Homo sapiens: one gene and its partners. The protein of the gene in region 1 purifies or fractionates together with the protein of each later gene. This does not show direct contact. Each region holds a gene or a part of one and is shown on either strand. Other genes may lie near its edges.

The links.
Region 2: the proteins of PKP1 (region 1) and JADE1 purify together in Homo sapiens (affinity purification with mass spectrometry; one large-scale study listed by BioGRID and IntAct). This does not show direct contact.
Region 3: the proteins of PKP1 (region 1) and POC5 purify together in Homo sapiens (co-immunoprecipitation; one large-scale study listed by IntAct). This does not show direct contact.
Region 4: the proteins of PKP1 (region 1) and ANXA2 purify together in Homo sapiens (affinity purification with mass spectrometry, with the first as the bait; one large-scale study listed by BioGRID). This does not show direct contact.

The regions. Positions count from the first base shown.
Region 1 is NC_000001.11:201,320,917-201,326,006, reverse strand, and holds part of PKP1 (plakophilin-1), read right to left. Parts: intron 4,030-5,090; coding exon 3,874-4,029; intron 2,995-3,873; coding exon 2,818-2,994; intron 1,580-2,817; coding exon 1,426-1,579; intron 1,067-1,425; coding exon 880-1,066; intron 254-879; coding exon 169-253; intron 1-168. UniProt on the Homo sapiens protein: A component of desmosome cell-cell junctions which are required for positive regulation of cellular adhesion.
Region 2 is NC_000004.12:128,815,152-128,820,241, reverse strand, and holds part of JADE1 (protein Jade-1), read right to left. Parts: intron 3,795-5,090; exon of another isoform or gene 3,779-3,794; intron 1-3,778.
Region 3 is NC_000005.10:75,689,396-75,694,485, forward strand, and holds part of POC5 (centrosomal protein POC5), read right to left. Parts: intron 3,106-5,090; coding exon 3,001-3,105; intron 1,168-3,000; coding exon 988-1,167; intron 1-987. UniProt on the Homo sapiens protein: Essential for the assembly of the distal half of centrioles, required for centriole elongation. Acts as a negative regulator of centriole elongation.
Region 4 is NC_000015.10:60,349,277-60,354,034, forward strand, and holds part of ANXA2 (annexin A2), read right to left. Parts: intron 3,201-4,758; coding exon 3,107-3,200; intron 2,544-3,106; coding exon 2,448-2,543; intron 1,976-2,447; coding exon 1,917-1,975; intron 1-1,916. UniProt on the Homo sapiens protein: Calcium-regulated membrane-binding protein whose affinity for calcium is greatly enhanced by anionic phospholipids. It binds two calcium ions with high affinity. May be involved in heat-stress response.

The sequences.
Region 1 (5,090 bases):
CAGAACGTTCATCACATTCATTTTCACGTAGACGCTGTCTTTGTCTCTCAGACTGTCCCGAAGGGCAGGGGCGTTTCTCTAGTGCCCAGCCCAGAGCCCAGCATATGCCAGGCCCTCTGCTCATGAGCAGGAAGAACCTCAGAAGAGGATGATGTCCTGGGCTCTTACCTGTCTGAGGACACCCTGCAGTTCCTTGCTGGACCACATGTCAGACAGGAGAAGCCGGGCAGCTTCTGCGGCCTTGGGTGAGGCACTGGGCAGGTGAGAAGTGCATTTGTGAGATGAGATTCCAGGAGGTGTGAGAAGGAGCACCCTCTTCCCTCCCACCCCCACTGCCAGGGCCTGGACACAGGGGAGGCCTCAGAGGAGGCCTCAGGTGTGCAAAAGAGAGGAGCCCCATTGGGGTGTGGTGAGCCTGGTCACCCTACCCAGTGGGCACAACCCCATGCCCCTGCCCACCTAGAGCACCCCAGGACTCTCCTCAGGGGCCATGAGGTGGCAGTGCTCTTCCACTCCAGTCCCCAGCCTTGTCCGGGGAAGAGAGAGCCCCACAGAGCAGGATAAAGTCCCTATTCAGTTGGACCTGCTGCCCCATGCCTCCTGCTGGCCCTCTGAGGACCTTGTGCCCCCGAGTCCCCCAGCCAGGAAGTGTGTTGCCTCTTCCCTCCATGCAGCCCTGGGGCCTGGATGCTGGACCCTTCTCTCCACGCACTCTCGGCTTCTGGAACTTCTCCTCCATTCAAGCCTCCCCCGTCCCTGGCTCCCCCTGCCCTTGGTGCTTCCCCTACTCCATGGAGAGCTGCGGGACTGCTTCCTGCTGTGCAGGGTGAGGAGGGGCTCTGATTGGGGTGCAGCCCGTGGGAGCAACCCCCCGCCCACCTGCTTCGGCACAGGTTGATGATGTTGTTGAGCATGCTGCTGGAGAAGTACTGCTTGGCCAGTTGTGGCTGCGAGGCCATCAGGTTCCTCACAGTGTAGCAGGCCGAGGACAAGATGTCTTCGGAGTTGCTGGTATTGCCAGTGTGGCTGGTGAGGAGCCTGGTCACCTCCGGGAACACCTGGTTCCCTGGGAGAGGAACGAGTTGGGGCACAGGGTCAGGATGACTGGGGAAGGAAGGGCTGAGGGGTTCCCTCTGGGGCCACACTCTTCGATAGCCTTCTGCCGGGCTCTGAGCCAGGTGGCCCTCAGGGCTTCCTGGCAGCTCCAACTCAGGGCTCAGAGACCCAGATAGGACTTTTGCAGATCTGCTCCCAGCCCTCAGGTGACAGGCTCCCTTCTCCTGTCTCCATACCTGTCTTTGGCCAGCTTCCTTTCTTGGAATGCTCATCCCAGGGAATGGCTTAAAGGATGACCTTCAAGCAGGCTTGAATTGTAGGGAGCCTGCCATGTCTTAGCTAGAGGGGGAGGAGAGAGAGGGACCTTACCCATCACTCTGTGCAGCAGAGGGTGGCGGGACATGTTGCTCAGGAGGGAGGCTCCGGACCGCACCACATCAGAGTTGCCAGATTGCAGGAGGCGGGCAATTTGTGGCAGGCCCTTTTCCTTCAGCCCAATCAACTGGCTCATGCCACTGGACATCTAAGAGAGAAGGAGTAGATGATGAGCTAGCCTGTGGCTTCCCAGGCACCATGGCAGGCAGAAAGGGGCAAGGAGCCCCAAAGGCAGACATCCCAGAACCCTTTCTCTTTCATATTGGAAGCACTAGCTCACATGTGGGCAACTACAGAAACCTAGGCTAACATGCACCTCCCCTTTCCCAGCCCTGATCCTGTCTCCTGGATCAGCCTGCAGCCCAGATGGGTGGAGAGAGGGAAGTCTCATTTCCCCTACTCATAGTGACCCAGAGTTAGCTTCCAGAGTAACCCAAGCGTCCAATGCTGCTCTCTCACCCCACTGTCTCAGCGCTGCCCCCATTACATCTCCCCACGCTATCTGCCCATGTGAAACTATATGGTCAAGGGTATTTGTCAATTAAACATCTGGCCATCTTCTTCCAACTTTCCTACCTCTTTAGAATCCAACACATATTTGTTGAGGGCTTGCCTGAGAAAAGAGGGCTAAGAAAGGGTCTGGGCCCACATGGAGAGAGAACTGGGGTCCCCTAGAGGTAGGCCAGTTCGCCCAGGCCTCTAAGCAACATAGCTATCCTGGGTGTAACAGGTCTAGGTGGGTTTGGCATTCTCAGAACTGCCCAGCCTCTCTCCTCACAGCCAGGGAAGTTCTCTGCCCTCGGTCTACTCTAGTGCTGCTGCTGCTCGGTTCCCTTTTCCTAAGTAAAGCTGAAGAACAGTTGGCCGCCTGGCCCATCTCAACTCTTCTTGATTGCAACAGGTTTCCTCTGGCTCTGCCCCATACCACTGTGCCCTCCAAGCTACATACATTTGGCCTCAACATCTGCACGGATTCTGTCACATCTTCTCTGGACCTGCTTGGACCCCAAACCCTCTTTTTCCACCTTTGTCAGTTCAACAAATGGGAAACTCCTTTTGCCAAACACCTTCTCCGCCGCATTCCCCGACCTCAAGCAGAGCCCAGGAGGCCAGCTGGGGACCGGGAGCCATGTGGCCAAGGGGATTGTGTGTGCATGGACAGAATCCAGCATCAGTGGGCCCACCCTCTCTGCATCCCCCAGCAGCTCCTAAAGGGCAGGAGTGTTTCCCCATTGCCCAGCCCAGAGCCCAGCATATGCCAGGCACACTCTGCTCATGGGAGGCTCCGAAGTCAGGGGACAGGCTGGGGGGAAAAGGAGGGAGCAGAGGCTGGACGGTGGCTGGAGGATGGGGCTGCTGCAGTAGAGAAGGTACAGTCCCACTCACCAGCCCCTTGCTGGCTGTCAGGTTCTGCAGGGCACCAGCACAGGCCTCCAGGGTAGCATCTTTCTTGCTCTTGCCCATGAGGTTCAGGTAGGTGCGGATGGCATCTGAATGGTACAACCAGCCGCTGCCCTTGGGGTTGGTCTCTTCCTCAGGCAGGGGGCAGTCATAGTTGTTGTTCTGAGGATAAAGAGCCGGTCAGGGGGGTCAATGGGGAGCCTTGTGAGAGGACACAACCCAGGCATTCTGTCCCCATCCCCCCAGCCTCAGGGTCGTGGTTCCAGATAGGGCAAGCTGAGGAAGCGCCTGCAGAGGCAGGGGGCCCAGGACAGCCCCGCTGCACCCCTTTCCTCTATGCACTGCAGCAGCTCCATGGGATGCAGGAATGGGCCATGGTCCCCCAGACTGTCCCAGGATGTGGGAGAAGAGAGCATCCTGGCATCTTGGGAGCTGTGTTCCAGGGCAGCCTTGGCCCAAACCTTCCAGATATGTGGGGCTGCTTTGGACTCTCCCATCATGATGCTTCCTCCTCTTCCAGACTCAGACAGTAGGTTTGACCCACCCTGGGCCAAAGAGGGTGGTCTGAGACCTGGATTCCACAGCTGGGCCCAGTGAAGGAGACCTGACAACCCATCCCTGGTAGGCTTCTGCTTCTGGGGAAACCTGGCAGGGCTCAGGAGATGGTGGGAACCAAGGCCAGAAAGAGTGAGAGTTCTGGCTTTCCTCAGATCCTCAAGGGCAAGGGAGAAGATGGGGGAGACTTGACCCACTATACAGGAAGAAAGACCAAGGCCTGCAAACAGAAGGCTGGAGTTTTTGACCTCTAAGGTGGTCTGAGCCCCTACAGTTCCAAGAACAGATTCCCCCTTGTGCAAGATGAATGGCCTCTACCCAGCTCCCAGAGTGCACCCTGAGCCCCAGGCCAAGGTGTCAGCATGGGCCTGTCCCTTAGGGCTGGCTTCAGGCTCCAGGAGGGCCCAGAGGAAAGGGCAGATGAGGCAGTGGCTCCTGGGGGGGTGCTTGATGGGGCAGGCCCCGCCCTGCTGATGCTGTGCTCACCATCATCTTGTCGCTCTTGTTGCTGAAGCAGCCAGTGGAGGACTTCTCGGTGTAGGCGTTGCGGGCGTTATACTCCAGCTGGCGGTAGCGGGTGGGCACCTCGGCGTCCAGGCGGTAGGAGAGGTTGTGCAGAACACACATGCAGTTTTCCACAGACTGGGGACCAAGGAGAGGCATGGGCCTGAGCCTCTGCCCGGCCCGACAGGCTCCTGGCCTACCACCTACCCTAGCTAATAAGAGAGCAGAGGCACCTGGGCTGCATCGGGAAAGATGAGCGCAGGCACCACCACACTATCAGCCTGGGAAGTCTTCCAGGGCCACCTCTGGGACCTGAGTTTGAATCTGTCATTTCCTGGCTGCATGAACTTGACTGGCCTCACTTCTCTGGGCCTCAGCTATCTCAAATGTAAAATGAGACTACAATTGTCCATTTCACTAGGCTATTTGGAAGATGATACAGAGAAAGCACTTATCACAGGGCCTAGTGTGTGGTAGGACTGCTATGGACAACATGCCAATGGGCAGACTGGGATATTGAAGAATGTGTCTTTTTTTTTTTCCAGAACAAACTCCTCCAGAAGAAGCCCCATGCCTCTAGATTCCAAAGCCATCTAGTGCCCCCATCATTCTTTCTTCCTGGGGCCAGTCCTTAGCTGTCAATGTCAGCGGTGCTAAGTCCACACAAAACACAGCAACACCTGGAGCCCAGGGCTTCATCATGGCAGCTGGGCTCAGATCTTTGTCAATCTCCTTTGGCAAACCTCCAAAGGACTAGGGTTTGGGGGCAGCAGATTTACCCTCCTAATGATGTTTGGCCCTTGCTGGGGTCTAAGGGAATCTGACTTCCAGGGCTTGGGGTTACACAGGTGTTGGAGATATTGCACACAGAGCAGAAAAGCATCTTGCCCTTTGGAAGCAGGCTGAGCAGCCCAGTGACAAGGCTCTCCTCTGTGGCCCTGCTGTTGCTTCCAGTGGAGGGAGCAGGAGATAAAATCCCTCCTTACGGCAACTGTGCTGAGAACCCAGGTGCTGTGATGTCAGCCCGTTCCCTGGCGATCTGGAGCCTGCTGGGCCTCACTATCTCCTGAGCCACTGTCCTGCCATGGTGGGAACATCTCAGCCTTCTGTTTATCTGCCCTCCACAACTTTTTTTCTTTCTGTTTGTCTGTGCTGTGTGTCCAGAAGTCCAGAGAGGGCAGCAAGATGACTGCCAATGG
Region 2 (5,090 bases), on another chromosome or scaffold:
TACTTGGGAGGCTGAAGCAGGAGAATTGCATGAACCCAGGAGATGGAGGTTGCAGTGAGCCAAGATCATGCCACTGCACTCCAACCTGGGTGACAAAGCAAGACTCCATCTCAAAAAAAAAAAGAAATCTTCCCAAAAGAAACCCATAAAATCATAATTAACTGCAGAGCTAGAGAGGATTTCAAAAACAATTTAAAATAATTTAATCCACCTTTCCTACTTTTAAAGAGGAGTACATGGATTTCTGCATGTTTATCAACTTGCACAAACACACATAAGTAGATCTAGTGCAAAGGCAGTGGAAGAACCAAAGACCAGTTCCCCAGGTGGGTGGAGGGGCACTCTCCTCCTGTGCCAGCCACCTCCTCCCAGATTCCTGGACTATGGGCTTCTTCCTCCTGGATGTACACTGGGATTTAAAAAGAGGTCATGTGAATGACTAAGGCCATGATACGTTATCAGAGAGCAAAAACTGAAAATGTAATCAATGAACAACAGTCTGTTAACTTGAAAACTGAAACACAGATTCATGGCAAGATGGTCACAAATGCCATTCATTTTGCATAGTGAAGCACACAAAAGGTAAAGCTGGAAGAATGTGTCAGCAGTTCCTTAAACACTACCACAGGAGTATGAGTTCTCCCGGAGTGGTAGGCATTAACTTCTGATTGCTGTGACACATACACCCTACTTGACATTATCTCCCTCTGTAGTGGAACACAATCTTATAATACATATCCTCTTACACAGGTCTTCTTAGCTTGACCCCCCCGGAGGGTGTGAGAGATGACCAAGGTATTTGTTCTTACACATTTTATCCTCAAAAGGGATCTAGGATCAGAATCCCAGCTACTCCAGAAGCTAAGGCAGGAGAACTGCCTGAGACCAGAAGGTTGCTGAGCCGTGATCGTGCCACTGCACTACTGCCTGAGCAGCAGAGAGAGCCTGCCCCCCAAAAAAAAAACCACCATTGCACTCCAGCCTGGGCAAAAAGAGCGAAACAAAAACAACCCACAGCCCTCAGCGTAGCCAACTACCTCCAAACAAACTTCTAATTTCAACTTGCATTTTCAGGTTCCTAGAAGGGAGCTCAGCCACCAGCAGAAACAATCAAGTAGCTGCTGTGTCTTACTATAAATCTGGGGAGGCCAGGGAGTGATGGCCAAAGTGGGCAGAACCTTTGAGCTCAGGAGTTCGAGAACAAAGAAACATAGCAAACCCCATCTCTACAAAAAATACAAAAAACTAGCCAGGCCTGGTGTGGGATGCCTGCAGTCCCAGCTACTGGGGAGGCTGAGATGGGAGGATCAAGTGAGCCCTGGAATTTACACCACTGCACTCCAGCCTGGACAACAGGGTGAGACCCTGTCTCAAATCAATCAATCAACCAATCAGGGGTCAACAGCCTGTTTCTGTATGGTTTTTGAGCTAAGAGTGATTTTCACATATTGAAATGGTTGAGGGTAGAGGGCCAAAGAACATTTCATGACATACAAAATTCATAAAAATTTTACATTTCTATATCCATAAATATCACTTTCACATTCATTTTGCCCATGGTTGCTCTGGCACAACTGCAGACTTGAGCAGTTGCGACAGACCATATGACCCACAAAACCTAAAATATTGACTACCTGGCTCTTTACAGAGAAAGGCAACTGATCTGTCCTATAAATCAACCGATCAGTAGTATGATGTTTATAAACCACCATTATGCGTGTTTAGTTCAATGTGAATCAATTACCAGGTGCTGGACAAGCAACCGAAAGCTTACAAAATTAAGGATCAGACACAATCACTCCTTAGGAAGTCCCTAACTATGGCCGGCCATGGTGGCTCACGTTTCTAATCCCACCACTTGGGGAGGCTGAGGCGGGTGCATCACCTGAGGTCAAGAGTTCGAGACCAGCCTGGCCAACATGGTGAAACCTCGTCTCTACTAAAAATACAAAAATTAGCAGGGCATGGTGGCACACGCCTGTAATCCCAGCTACTCGGGAGGCTGAGGCAGGAGAATTGCTTGAACCCAGGAGACAGACGTTGCAGTGAGCCCAGATCATGCCACTGCACTCCATCCTGCATAACAGAGCAAGACTCTATCTCAAAAAAAAAAAAGAAGTCCCTAACTAGAATAATCAAAAGGAAGGCATTGAGGAGACCTCTAAGCAACTTAAATAAAGGCCACAGTAAAACCAGTGGGTTTTTCTCAAAAGAAAACCCCTGAGGCTCCTACTTGGAGCCAGTGTACACAAGTTTTAAAAACTTCTAACAGGCTTCTTATTTGATTTTCAAGTTAATGACCAATAAGCAGAAAAATCACTGTTCTCAACAGGCATTTTAACTACAATACATGGTAACAGTGGCAGTAAAAGGATCACAGAGAAATCATAAAAAGAAGTCACCAGAATTTAAACACTTAAACTAGAATCCAAGGATGTGCTTAAGGAAACACCCATGTTTTCTGGGGGAGAGCTTCCATGGGTTTCAGTGTCAAGTGTCCCCAACTTAAAAAGTTACAACCACCAACACTCAGCCTCTATATGTTAAGTGCATCATGGCATTTCCACATGGAAGTAACTGATGCTCGTAAAGATTATGACAAAGAGTAATCAATAAAAAATTTAAATTGCATTTAGTGTACTTTGTGCTAAATTAAAGCAAGCCATGAAGTTCAACCTCAAGCAACTTGCTAATAACATTGCTATTTCTTGTTCCTTACCCTGGTTTAAGTGGGAAACAAACAAACAAAAAGATTATTTTATGCCTCAGTGTGGACCCACACCACTGAAATCTTCACTTAAAGTAAGTCCTTATAAACTCTCATGGAAGATGCCATGAATTCTCAAAATAATAAAATCTCCTGCACAGGAGACACTAAATGATCAATAGTTTAAAATATTACTTCCACCAGCCACACAGGTGCACACTTGTAATCGCAGTTAGGAAGCCAGGGCGGGAGGACTCAGCTCTGGAGTTCAAGACTAGCCTGGGCAACCTGAGCAACATAGTGAAACCTCATCTCTCTAACAAAAAATACAAAGAGACAGATGTCAATTGTGAGCGCTTTCAAAGTAATAGAAAACTGGCCAGTCATGGTGGTTCACACCTGTAATCTAGCACTTTGGGAGGCCGAGGTAGGTGGGTCACTTGAGGTCAGGAGTTTGAGACCAGCCTGGCCAACATGGTAAAACCCCGTCTCTACTAAAAATACAAAAATTAGACAGACACGGCGGCATGCGCCTGTGATCCCAGCTACTCCGGAGGCTGACTCACTTGAACCCACTGCAGTGAGCCGAGATCCCACCACTGCACTCCACCCTGGGTGACAGAGCAAGAACTTGTCTCAAAAAAAAAAAAAGAGAGAGAAAATGTAGTTTACTTCCCTCAACAAGTAAGCCCAAAAAAATCTAAGGTTTTAAAAATTAACTTTCTTCAACTGCTCTCTATCACATTATGTCCTACCTCTACCTGAAGAACTAAAGGCAAAAAGTAAATACTGAATTCGTTTTAGAGTAACCAAAATTTGGTCACTGAACATTTACTGTGTGCACATCGTACACTATGGGTCTAAGGGATTAAACGTAAAAATACATGGCCCCTTTCCTAGTGATAAAGGCTTTCCAGTCCAAGTCTGGTAATCTTTATGTTTGTGCTTTGAGGTGAGGAAAGGATCCTTAATAATCATTCAAGTCCTGGGCTAGGAAAGGCCCCATCATAGCCAAAGTTTTTAGCATCAATTTCTTCCATTCTATTCCATGACACCCAACCTTAAACTTACAAATTGTCACTTCTATGTGTAATTAAAAAGGCCCTCCAAGGTCATTTTCTTGCATTTATTAGGAGAGCAGAGTAACTTGCTTCATCAGGGCTATGAACTGCAAAAAAAGAAAAAATAAAAATAATGCATACACCCTCATGATCACAAACCAAAGTTTTCATATGAGAAATACACTAGGCAAAGGACAATAGACTCAATAGACTCAACTAAATCTCAACTTCTGAGATATTACATTCCACAAACATAAAAAGAATTGTCCAGATTGTAAATACATGGTCATATAAAGTGCTGCAAGGACTTGAAAACGGAGAAAACAGATTTAAGACTTTTAAGGAAACAACTTACCTGTCTCAGGAATTAAAATACTTTCCTAATTTAAGATTGCTGATACCTTCTAAGAAACCAGAAACTCCAAGCAAACCCACCCTTCATGTTTAAAAAAAAAAAAAAAGTATTGTTGAATATGGTGCCAATTCTCTAAAGGCTTGTACAAGGGAGGAAATAAGTTTAAACGTGACGTAACTTTCACCGTTTTAACAATCAAGCTAAACCTCTTAATGCCAACCCAAATAAAAAGCAAGGTGTGTTCGCTAATATGTCATATTTCCCTCTATAACTGTTTTATAAACCTCACAGGAAAACCAGTTTTATAATGCAAATTCTGACAGACCATTAACTGTAATGCTGTAACAGGTGCCCCATAATACTAAATGACAGGGAAGAGCTTCACAAACAAGAAAGTAAAGCAGCAAGCAGAACTGTGACAGATTCCTATGCCTCCTCTTCTCTGACCAAACCCTAAAGAGACAGGATGTAATCTGTATTTGATATCTTGATGTTTACTGTTCCAACCACCTCAGTACTGAAACACAAACATCTGATAAATCTTTTTCCAACAAGTCTGTGGAAAGTAACATCAAGCAAGCAGATGATCTCCAAATTTAAGATTTCCAAATTACAATAAATACCATTTGGATTTCCTGCTTTTTTAAAATCCAGGCAACTTTATTTCCAAAGGCTTGCCTCCTCAGTGTCAGATATTCTGTCAAAAAGTTACTTAAGATTGCCGGGCACGGTGGCTCACGCCTGTAACCCCAGAACTTTGGGAGGCTGAGGCGGGCGGATCACGAGGTCAGGAGATCGAGACCATCCTGGCTAACACGGTGAAACCCCGTCTTAATAAAAATACAAAAAAATTAGCTGGGCATGGTGGCGGGTGCCTGTAGTCCCAGCTACTCTGGAGGCTGAGGCAGGAGAATGGCGTGAACCCGCGAGGCGGAGCTTACAGGGAGGCGGAGCTTACAGGGAGGCG
Region 3 (5,090 bases), on another chromosome or scaffold:
TTTATCCAGTCCCATTGAATATTGCTGATGTATTTTCATTTCACAAAAAGATACACCATTTTTTACTGTAAAACTTTTATGTAGGATGTTAAACAAAATACATTAAGAGCCACAGACAGCCCTTTCAGAAAAAAATAAAATAAACTACATGCCTGCAATATTAACAGAATTTTTATAATGTAAATGTTACCTTCAGTATTTGAAGTGCAGAGTGACCCTAGGTACAACACACTTTCCCATAGGCCAAACCTCAGGGGACTGCATTTTTTGCATGTCGTAGTGAACTGCAGAAAATTATTTGTATTATGGATTTATTTTTAATCTTAACAATTTAATGCTGTAATGAGTTATTTTTTCATTTTAATATTTAACTTCAAGAGGCCTATTGCATTCTTTAGAATGGATTTTATTTCATTTCAATTCCAAATGTTTTCCCATGAAAACAATGTTAATTTTATTATTAAAAGTCAATGGGAAAAAATAATTTCAATTTCTTTTTTTCTTTTTTGAGATGGATTTCTGCTCTTGTTGCCTAGGTTGGAGTGCAACAGTGTGATATAGCTCACTGCAACTTCTGCCTCCCAGGTTCAAAAGATTATCCTGCCTCAGCCTCCCGAGTAGCGGGTATTATAGGCATGTGCCACCATACCCAGCTAATTTTTTTAGTAGAGACGGGGTTTCACCATGTTGACCAGGCTGGTCTCAAACTCCTGACTCAGGTGATCTGCCCGCCTCGGCCTCCCAAAGTGCTGGGTCTACAGGAGTGAGGCACCGCGCCCAACTAATAATTTCAATTTCTATACAACTCCTTATATCAACCATGTAAGAATATACAATAAACATTAAATTAACACAAGAATAAACGTTTTCATTTTTTTGTCTGCATTCTTGATTAAAGACCAAAAGAAGAAGTCTATTAATTAATAGTGAGTCTATCTATCTTTTTATTGTATTAGAAGAAAGTGAAAACCAGAAAAAGATGCTTACCATAGCAACTTTGGCTTCATAATCATTGGAAATCTGGATACAAACTTCTTCAGCTCTTGCTTGACAAGCTCTTTCTACCACATCTTTCCACTGCTTTTGCACTACGGAACGCCAGACTTTCCAGACTTTCTTCAGTAAAGTTCTCTGGTAGTACTGGTCAGCTAGTTTACCTTCATAAACCTAAATAAAAGTAAAATATAACTTCAAAAACACAGTTGATTGATAAATATATTGGTAGTAATAATAAACATAACATGGTGGTAAGTGTACATATACACATTATTTAATTCTATGTAATCATATTATTCTCATCTTGCATATAGGAGAACAGGCTTAGAGAGGTTAAGCAAGCTACGTAGTTCACATAAGTAGATGAGTAAAGCCAGACTTGCCTGACTCCAGAGACTGAGCTCTTATCCATTACATCATTGCTTTATGCAACTAATCAAGTTAGAGAAAAAGAATACAACCAAATGAAAGAAAATGAGCAAATCACCACTTGCCATCTTAGTTATGAATTTAGCAGGACCAGGAGAATAACAGAGTGGCTAGAAGGCAGGAAATGGTGGTGGCTGTGGCTTCAGATGACACTGCTTTCTCTTCAGTTTGATGGCCACCACAAGCAAGATTTAATTTATAAACCCTGCCATCATATATGGTGCCAATCCAAATAAAAACTTATGCTATTTTTCTTTTATCAATGAATTTAAATTCTTTTGAAGAAGTAGTTCCAATTCTCAATTTCTTCAGTTTGAAAAACTATCCAAAAGTGACAGTAGCCTCAACTATTCTGGCTAACATTTAAAAATAAATATGTATTCTCATTATTTCACTTGACAAGTTTCAAAGTAGAGTATAAATATTCATTTTAACCAGCTTACTTAATGTGGATTTAATCTACTGGGATTAATTAAAAAAATGAAAAATCCAGAAAGTATTCTTAAAGGAGAAATCTTATTCCAGGATAAAGTAGGTTGAGCATCTCTAATCCAAAAATCTGAAACTTTTTGAGTGTCAGCATGACACCACAAGTGAAAAATTCCACACAGAAGTACTTAACACAAACTTTGTTTCATGCATAAAATTATTAAAAATATTGTATACAATTACCTTAGGCTATATGTATAAGGTGAAATATGAAACATAAATGAATTTTGTGCATAAGGTGTGATATGAAACATAATCTAAAATCCAAAATTCTCCTGGTGCCAAACATTTTGGATAAGGGATACTCAACCTGTACTAGCTTTTTCCTTAAATACTAATCTCTTGGAAACTAAATACACAGAGATTATTCCATAGCTCACATGAATATACATGGAAAGCATATATATATATATTCATCTCCTATATTCATGTGTCTCTAAACTATGTCTTGTTGTGGGATATACTCATACTTTTCCACTTTTGATACAACAATTTAGTATTCTCTTTCAGTTCACTATTTACTGATATACCAACTCAGCTCTTACTTAAAATAAAAGATGTTCAAGTTTAAATGATATACTACAAGCTAAGGATAACTTTTAAAAAGCTGTACAGGTATGGCTTTCTCTGACTCTCACTCTAAGGCAAGTCTACATAACAAACATTTATACTGTGATTTAATGTATAAATATAGTAAAGCCTCTTTATGAATAAGTTGTATTCAGGCATTTTAAAAGTAGAAACAATATAGGAAGCATTTGATATGTTAAACATAACTTCTTTCTCCAATAACCACATCTGAGGGGGTTCTATTACCAGGGCCTTTACAATTTAGGAACAATCCTTATTAACCTACTATGAAGCAGGAAATGATGTATCTATTGTAATATATATATATTATATGTCAATAAGATCTAAACTGTATTTTTTCCAAACTACATCAAAATCAAATTCCTTTGAAATAAGAGGAACATTAAATCACAAATTCATTTTGACTTATTAGAAAACAACTATAATAAGTGATCCTGAGCACTTCTGAATTCAGAAGTCTAACATCCATCAGCTGTCTTCTGCTTTGACACTTACATCCTGTCTGGCTCTGACATGGCCGATTCGCCAGTGGAAGAATGTTCTCATCAACTCTATCTTTTCCTTTTGCTTGCCTATGGCATGAGACAAGCTAGAAATCACCTGTAAACAGCAATTAACCCAATTATTGTGATATTAAAATAACAGCAATTGGTAAAGTGATTTTCTCATATATCAAAAAATGCTAGAGAGGATAGGTATGGATCACTACTATATTCATTCAGTTAACCTCATTATTATCTTTAAAAAGATGGTAAAACTTTCTCACATGAATATACTAGATATCAACTAATGAAAGGGAACAAAAGAAGAAGGAAGTCTTCATTATGTGTATATGGTAATCACCAATAAAAAGTTTATGTATATGCAAATTAGCTACTGACATTCAATTCAGGTAAAACAATTATACATTTGAAAGTTCTCCTATATACACCATGTCTTTATTCACTAGATTTGAGGGCAGGGGCCAGAATATTTAGATATTTAAATATCTTTCTGGTCCCTACTACTATCTTGGATATAGAAGTTCCTCAACGACTGTCCAATGATTTTCTGGATTAAACAAACCTATAAAAGCAAATAATAGTTATATATGTAACTATTAATATGTTATAGTTATATATATAACTATATATTATATATGTTATATATACCTATTAATAACATGTTATACATATAACTATTAATAACATATATAACATATGTCATACATAAAATGTTATATATATAAGTAAATATATATAATTAATGTTATACATATAACATATTAATAACATTATATATAACTAATGTTATTAATGTTATATGTTGATGTACTTCTTCAGTGATATTATTACTCTTGTTCTTAAAAAAAAATTCAGAAGGCTTTAAAATCCTAAGATAATATTCTCTCTTATAAAAGAACTGAATAACTGAAATAAATTTCTAAAAATAGTCACATTAGAAAGAGATTTTGTAAATTGGGCACATTTACCAAGAGATATTTATAACTGCTCTTTAAATAATTTCCAGAGAGGAAAAGGGCATACATTCTAAGCTACTGGAAATATTCTATGTGTTAAGCTGAATCGTAGTACCTGTCTATCCACTTTACTCATTCTCATAAACTGAACATATGATATCTATATTCTTTGTGATACTTCAAAATAAAAAAATTAAACTTAAAAACCATGGGACAGAATTTTGAGTATAACAAAGAAAATGACTGACATTAAAATCCATTGTTTCAAAAAAAATTCTATAAAATGTTCAATTTTATACGAAATCAAGGTATGTTTAAAAAAATTATAATCTTTAATTCATGAAAACACTTAAGTGCTACTTCTGCAGACAAGCAGCTGAGGTGTCTGCCCAAGTCCTCCTCTTCTGAACAACACCACTCTCCTATCCATAAGTGGATGCCCCTCCGGACATCCATTTATAGCCGGGCACAGATTTGTTGCCCATCTGCTTTGCTCCAGGTACTGTGTCAGGAGGCAAAAAATTAGCACAGACTTGAATCTTACCCTCGAATTCTTAAGAAGCTAAAGGAAAGTGAAATAAAAGATGTTTTCTGTGTTTATCAATAAAATGAAGAAAGCCTTCATTAATGAAAACACATCCATCACAGATAGAATTTGAGATGCTTAAACCCAAGCATGGTGGTATGCACTTGCAGTCCCTGGCAGGGGCTGAGGCAGGAGGTTCACTTGAGCCCCGGAGTTTGAGATTGTAGTGAGCTATGATTATGCCTATGAATAGCCACTGCTCTCCACTCTGGGCAACATAGCAAGACCCTGTTTCAAAAAGAGAGAGATTAAAAAAAGAATGTGAGATCCTTAAAATGACCCCTAAAAGGATGGTTTAAAATGTAGATAATGCTCGTTCCTTCACGTTCGCTTAAGGTTAGGAAGAAAGGATTAGAAAGAAAAAAACTAGTGTACTTACATTTAGCACATACTCTTTTTAAAAAAAAATTTTTTTTAAATTGACAAATCATAATAGTTTTATACATTTATGGGTTACAAGGTGATGTTTTAATGTAGTTTACAAAGCAAACACTCTTAAAACATCAAGAACACAGAAGTCAATGGTGAGGGTAAAATGAC
Region 4 (4,758 bases), on another chromosome or scaffold:
ATCTGAAAATCTGAAATCTAAAATGCTCCAAAATCCAAAACTTTTTCAGTGCCGACATGATGCCACAATGAAAAATTCCACATACAGCACTTAACACAAACTGTTTCATGCACAAAATTATCAAAAGCGTTGTATAAAATTACCTTTAGGCTATGTGTGTAAGGTCTATATAAAACATAAATGAATCTCAAGTTTAGACTTGGGTCCCATCCCTAAAATATTTCATCATATATATGCAAATATTACAAAATCAAAAATAAATCTGAGATATAAAACATTCCTGGTCCCAAGCATTTTGGATAAGGGATATTAGGGCACAGTGTACACTGCCTGGGTGATAAGTACACCAAAATCTCAAAAATCACCACGAAAGAACTTATTCATGTAACCGAACACTACTTGTTTCCCAAAAACCTATAAGAAAGGAAAGACAGAGAGAGAGAGGGAAAGACAGAGAGAGAGAGAGAAAGAAAGAGAGAAAGAAAGAAAAAGGGAAGGAAGGAAGGAGAGAGAAAGAGAGAAGAAAGGGAAAGGGAAAGGAAGGAAAGGGAGGGAGGGGAAGGAAAGGGAGGGAGGTGAAGGCAGGGAGGCAGGGGAAGGCAAGGAGGCAGGAGAAGGCAGGGAGGCAGGGGAAGGCAGGGAGGCAGGGGAAGGCAGGGAGGCAGGGGAAGGCAGGGAGGCAGGGGAAGGCAGGGAGGGAGGGGAAGGCAGGGAGGCAGGGGAAGGCAGGGAGGGAGGGGAAGGCAGGGAGGCAGGGGAAGGCAGGGAGGGAGGGGAAGGCAGGGAGGCAGGGGAAGGCAGGGAGGGAGGGGAAGGCAGGGAGGGAGGGGAAGGCAGGGAGGGAGGGGAAGGCAGGGAGGGAGGGGAAGGCAGGGAGGCAGGGGAAGGCAGGGAGGGAGGGAGGAAAAAAGAAAGAAAAAAAAAGACAAGACAAGAAAAGAAAAGAAAGAAGAGCATCTGGGAATTCCAAACACACCAGGCTGTAGTCAGCACAGACTCCCACTCTATGCCACCATTCAATAAATATATACTGAGCACCTACTACTGCAAGGCTCAGTTCAAGCAGTCTGAGTCTCCATATGTAACAAGAGGTTCCTGACTCTTGCAGGCTTAGAGGGAACATGCCAACACATTTCTATCATCGCTCTGTGCCATTTCTAATGATATGTGCAATAAAGACCACTGAGTTTACTTCCAGAGCATCAGAGCGAAGGCACCAAGGGGTGCTATTTGATATGGAACTCAAAGACAGATGGCAGAGGCAGCACAGACAAGGGAGATGTTCCAGAAGGAAAATGCAAAAGCCTAGAAGCCAGAAAACACATGGCACACTTGAGGTGTAGAAAATGGGATGGGTCTACGGGAAGAGGTGGTTCGTTTAGGGAAGGGTTGTGGGGCTGTCTTTGGGGTCTGATAGACCCAGGTTCAAATCTGTCTGTGTAACTTCAAGCAGGCTGAGGTATTCTGAGCTCCATCTCTGCATTTATAAAGAAGATAATCATAAGCCTCAGAGGTTGTTATGCAATGATTTAAGGTAAAATAGTAGCACTTGTCCACTGTATAGTGGGTGCTTAATAATCGCTCCCTTCCTCGCTTGTCTTGACTCTGGCAGTAACAGGAAGAAATCACGGAGAAACCTAAGCAGGGATCAGACACGACTACCATGTCGCATTTTCTCTCTCCCATGGCACTTTACTTTTTGTCTGTACGCAAATACATGTTCAAGCAGCTGAGAGAAAGAAGACAGATTTGTGGTTCTCTCAGCTGTCACATACAACCACAGCTGACTAGTGTGTTCCTGCATCCACACAGTGGGGTCCCCTTCCTCCATCCATGAATCAAGGAGACTCAATTTGGGACCCAAAAGAAGAAAAGCTGAGTGTGGAAACACAGCTCTCTCAGCCAGCTGCCCTTACCTTCATGGAGTCATACAGCCGATCAGCAAAATACAGGGGCTTGTTCTGAATGCACTGAACTGTGGAGAGAAGAAAGGGAGTCAGCGCTGCAGCTGCTCTGGTCTCTCCTCTACCAATGAGAGAGGATGCCCTGGCCCTGGGCCACAAACCAGAAGTGACCTAATGCAATGGAAAAGGGCTGCAAAATAGGACAGGCTAAGGGAAATCTAGAAATCCTCTGCAATACTAAGTTCCACCACGGTTTTAAACCAGGGGTCTCTGAGGCCTGCAGAACCCAAGTGCATACGTGAGTTTCCACAACACACCCCTCTCTCCTCCTGTTCTCTTACTCCTCCCTGGCAACAATCTGTTACCAAGTTAGGCCTTTCTTCAGTTTTATATTCTGAAATCTATACAATTAAGACTGTAAAACTATCCAAAGCATGCATAGAAGCCACACCTCCCAAACACATTTGGATTAACAGGATGGCCATCTGTCACTTCTGCTCTGGTAGCTGATGTCTACCAGGAATGGGGGCCACATTCACTTACCCAGGTTCAGGAAAGCATTTTCCAGGTCTCCTTTAACCTCTTTCCTGATGCTTTCCAACATGTCATAAGGGCTGTAACTCTTGTACCTATCAAATACTGAGGAAAAACAACAAAGAGTTATCAGATCCGAGCCACTAGTCAAAGCTGTCAACGATCACCCACCTAGTTTTATGCACCATAATTTTTTTAAAAATTGAGGATGATCACAGCATCCTAGGAGCTTAGAGGTTACCACGGTGACCAGAGCCAACATTGGCCAAGTTTGTCGTGGAACAGCCATACCACCTGTCCTGAATGGCACTGCCCAGGCCACATATTTGGACCATCTCTATCTCCCCTGAGTGGAACCCATTCCATCCGAAAACCATAGGAAACAGTACAGAGCATGCACCAAAGTCCACTACTTCAACAAATAATGGCAAGACCAAATGATCATCAAACAAGAAGGAGCTGCAGAATAAAGCACCAAATGCAGAAACTATTTGCAAGAGAAAAGAATCCAGAATGGGAGAGAAAGGTGAGGGAAAATGGGTGAGCCTATGAGAGTGCCAAGCGGAGACAGAACCTCATTCTGGCAGACTCCATCCCAACATGGACATCCACCCAGCCGCCCCAGCCAGGGCCCCAAGGCACTGAGACTCCCTCAGCACAGTGCCCACCTTTCTGGAGGTGGGGCACGCTCCGCTCGGTCATGATGCTGATCCACTTGGGAACATCAGTTCCTTTCCTCTTCACTCCAGCGTCATAGAGATCCTACGAGTACAACCAACCAGGAAAAGTTAACTACACATCCAATGTAACGTCAAAAAAAATGTCATGCAAAAAAAACAAAAAAAGCTACACATTCAAAATGCCAAACGAGGAAAGATGATTATACTGCAGACATGGGCAGAGACCTACTATTTAGGTCAAAAGTCTTAATCACAAGCAGTCTTCCTTAGGCACAGATGGATACCATATGAGACTGCAGATAGTTCGTGAGGTCTGCTGTACAATCTCCTTCCTTGAATAAGAAAGGAGGGACCAAGAGCTTGTATTCATATAAAGAAGAACAAGTAAATGTTCATTAACACATCTGGCCCTCCTCCCTTTGGGCACATTTAGGGGCAGATAAGCTAGCAGATGTTTACTGGACAGCTACAGACCAGGCTCTCATTCTCAAGCTTCTCAGAGACTCAGGGAGTGATGGAGCTGGAAAAGGAGCCCATCTCATCTCACTTTCAGTTTCTGGAAAATTTAGGGGCTACAAGTAGCCCTAACAATGGCAGGGAGGGCAAGAGGAAGAAAGGCTTATGCAAGGGTAGATATTCATTCCGTGATCTTCCACCATCTAGGAACTGCAAAACCCAACTTCTATTACTTTATTTAAAACCCTTCTCTACTACCTGCTAGAAGTGCCGTGTGGAATATATTGAATTTTAAAACTAACATTAATTTAAATTAATTTTTTTCTGCAGCTTTTATGACTTACTTTGAGATAATCGTTGTCCCTCTGAGTAAAGAATATAGTTCATTGCAGTCTGAATAAGCTTAACAAATAGTTCTCAGAGATAATGGAACTAGAACTGGCAAAAGTCTTATTCAGCCAGAAAAGGACAGGTCTCTGCTGGCCTCCCTTTCTCCCCCACCACAACAGAGCAGTACACCATCCTGTCCCTGGCTGTGTCTCCTCCACCTTCTTCTGCTTCCCACCTGCCTGCCTGATTGGTATGCACAGCCACATTACACTCTGCAGAAACTGATGCTTCCATACAAGCAAAGCCTGAGTGAGCATATGTGAGTCACGTATTGATTCTGTAAGTAACACCAGCATTATAAGAGAATGTCTTCTAATAAACATTGCTGTCAGACTATGGTGGGTTTAAAATACGGCCAGAAATTCTTTGAGGTTCCTCCCTTCCAAAGGAAGAGCCTAATCCCCTCCCACTGAGTGTGGGCTAGACTCAGTGACTCACTTTTAATGAAAAGAGTATGACAGCAGTGCAAGGTGGGACTCCTGAGGTTAGGTCATAAAAGACACTGTGGCTTCCTCTTTGCAGATTGCTTGCTCTGGGGAAAGCCGGCTGCCATGTTGTGAGGACGCTCAAACAACCCCATGGAGAGGCATATGTGGAGCGATTCTAAGGTCTCCTACCAACAGTCATGTGAAGTGCACCATCTTGGAAGCAGATTCCCTTGACCCAGTCAAGCCCTCAGGTGACTGCAGCCATGCAACATTTTGTCTGCAACCTCAGAAAAGACCCTGAGCCAGAACAATTGGGCTAATCTACTCCTCAATTCCTGACACACAGAAACTGAGAAATAATACATG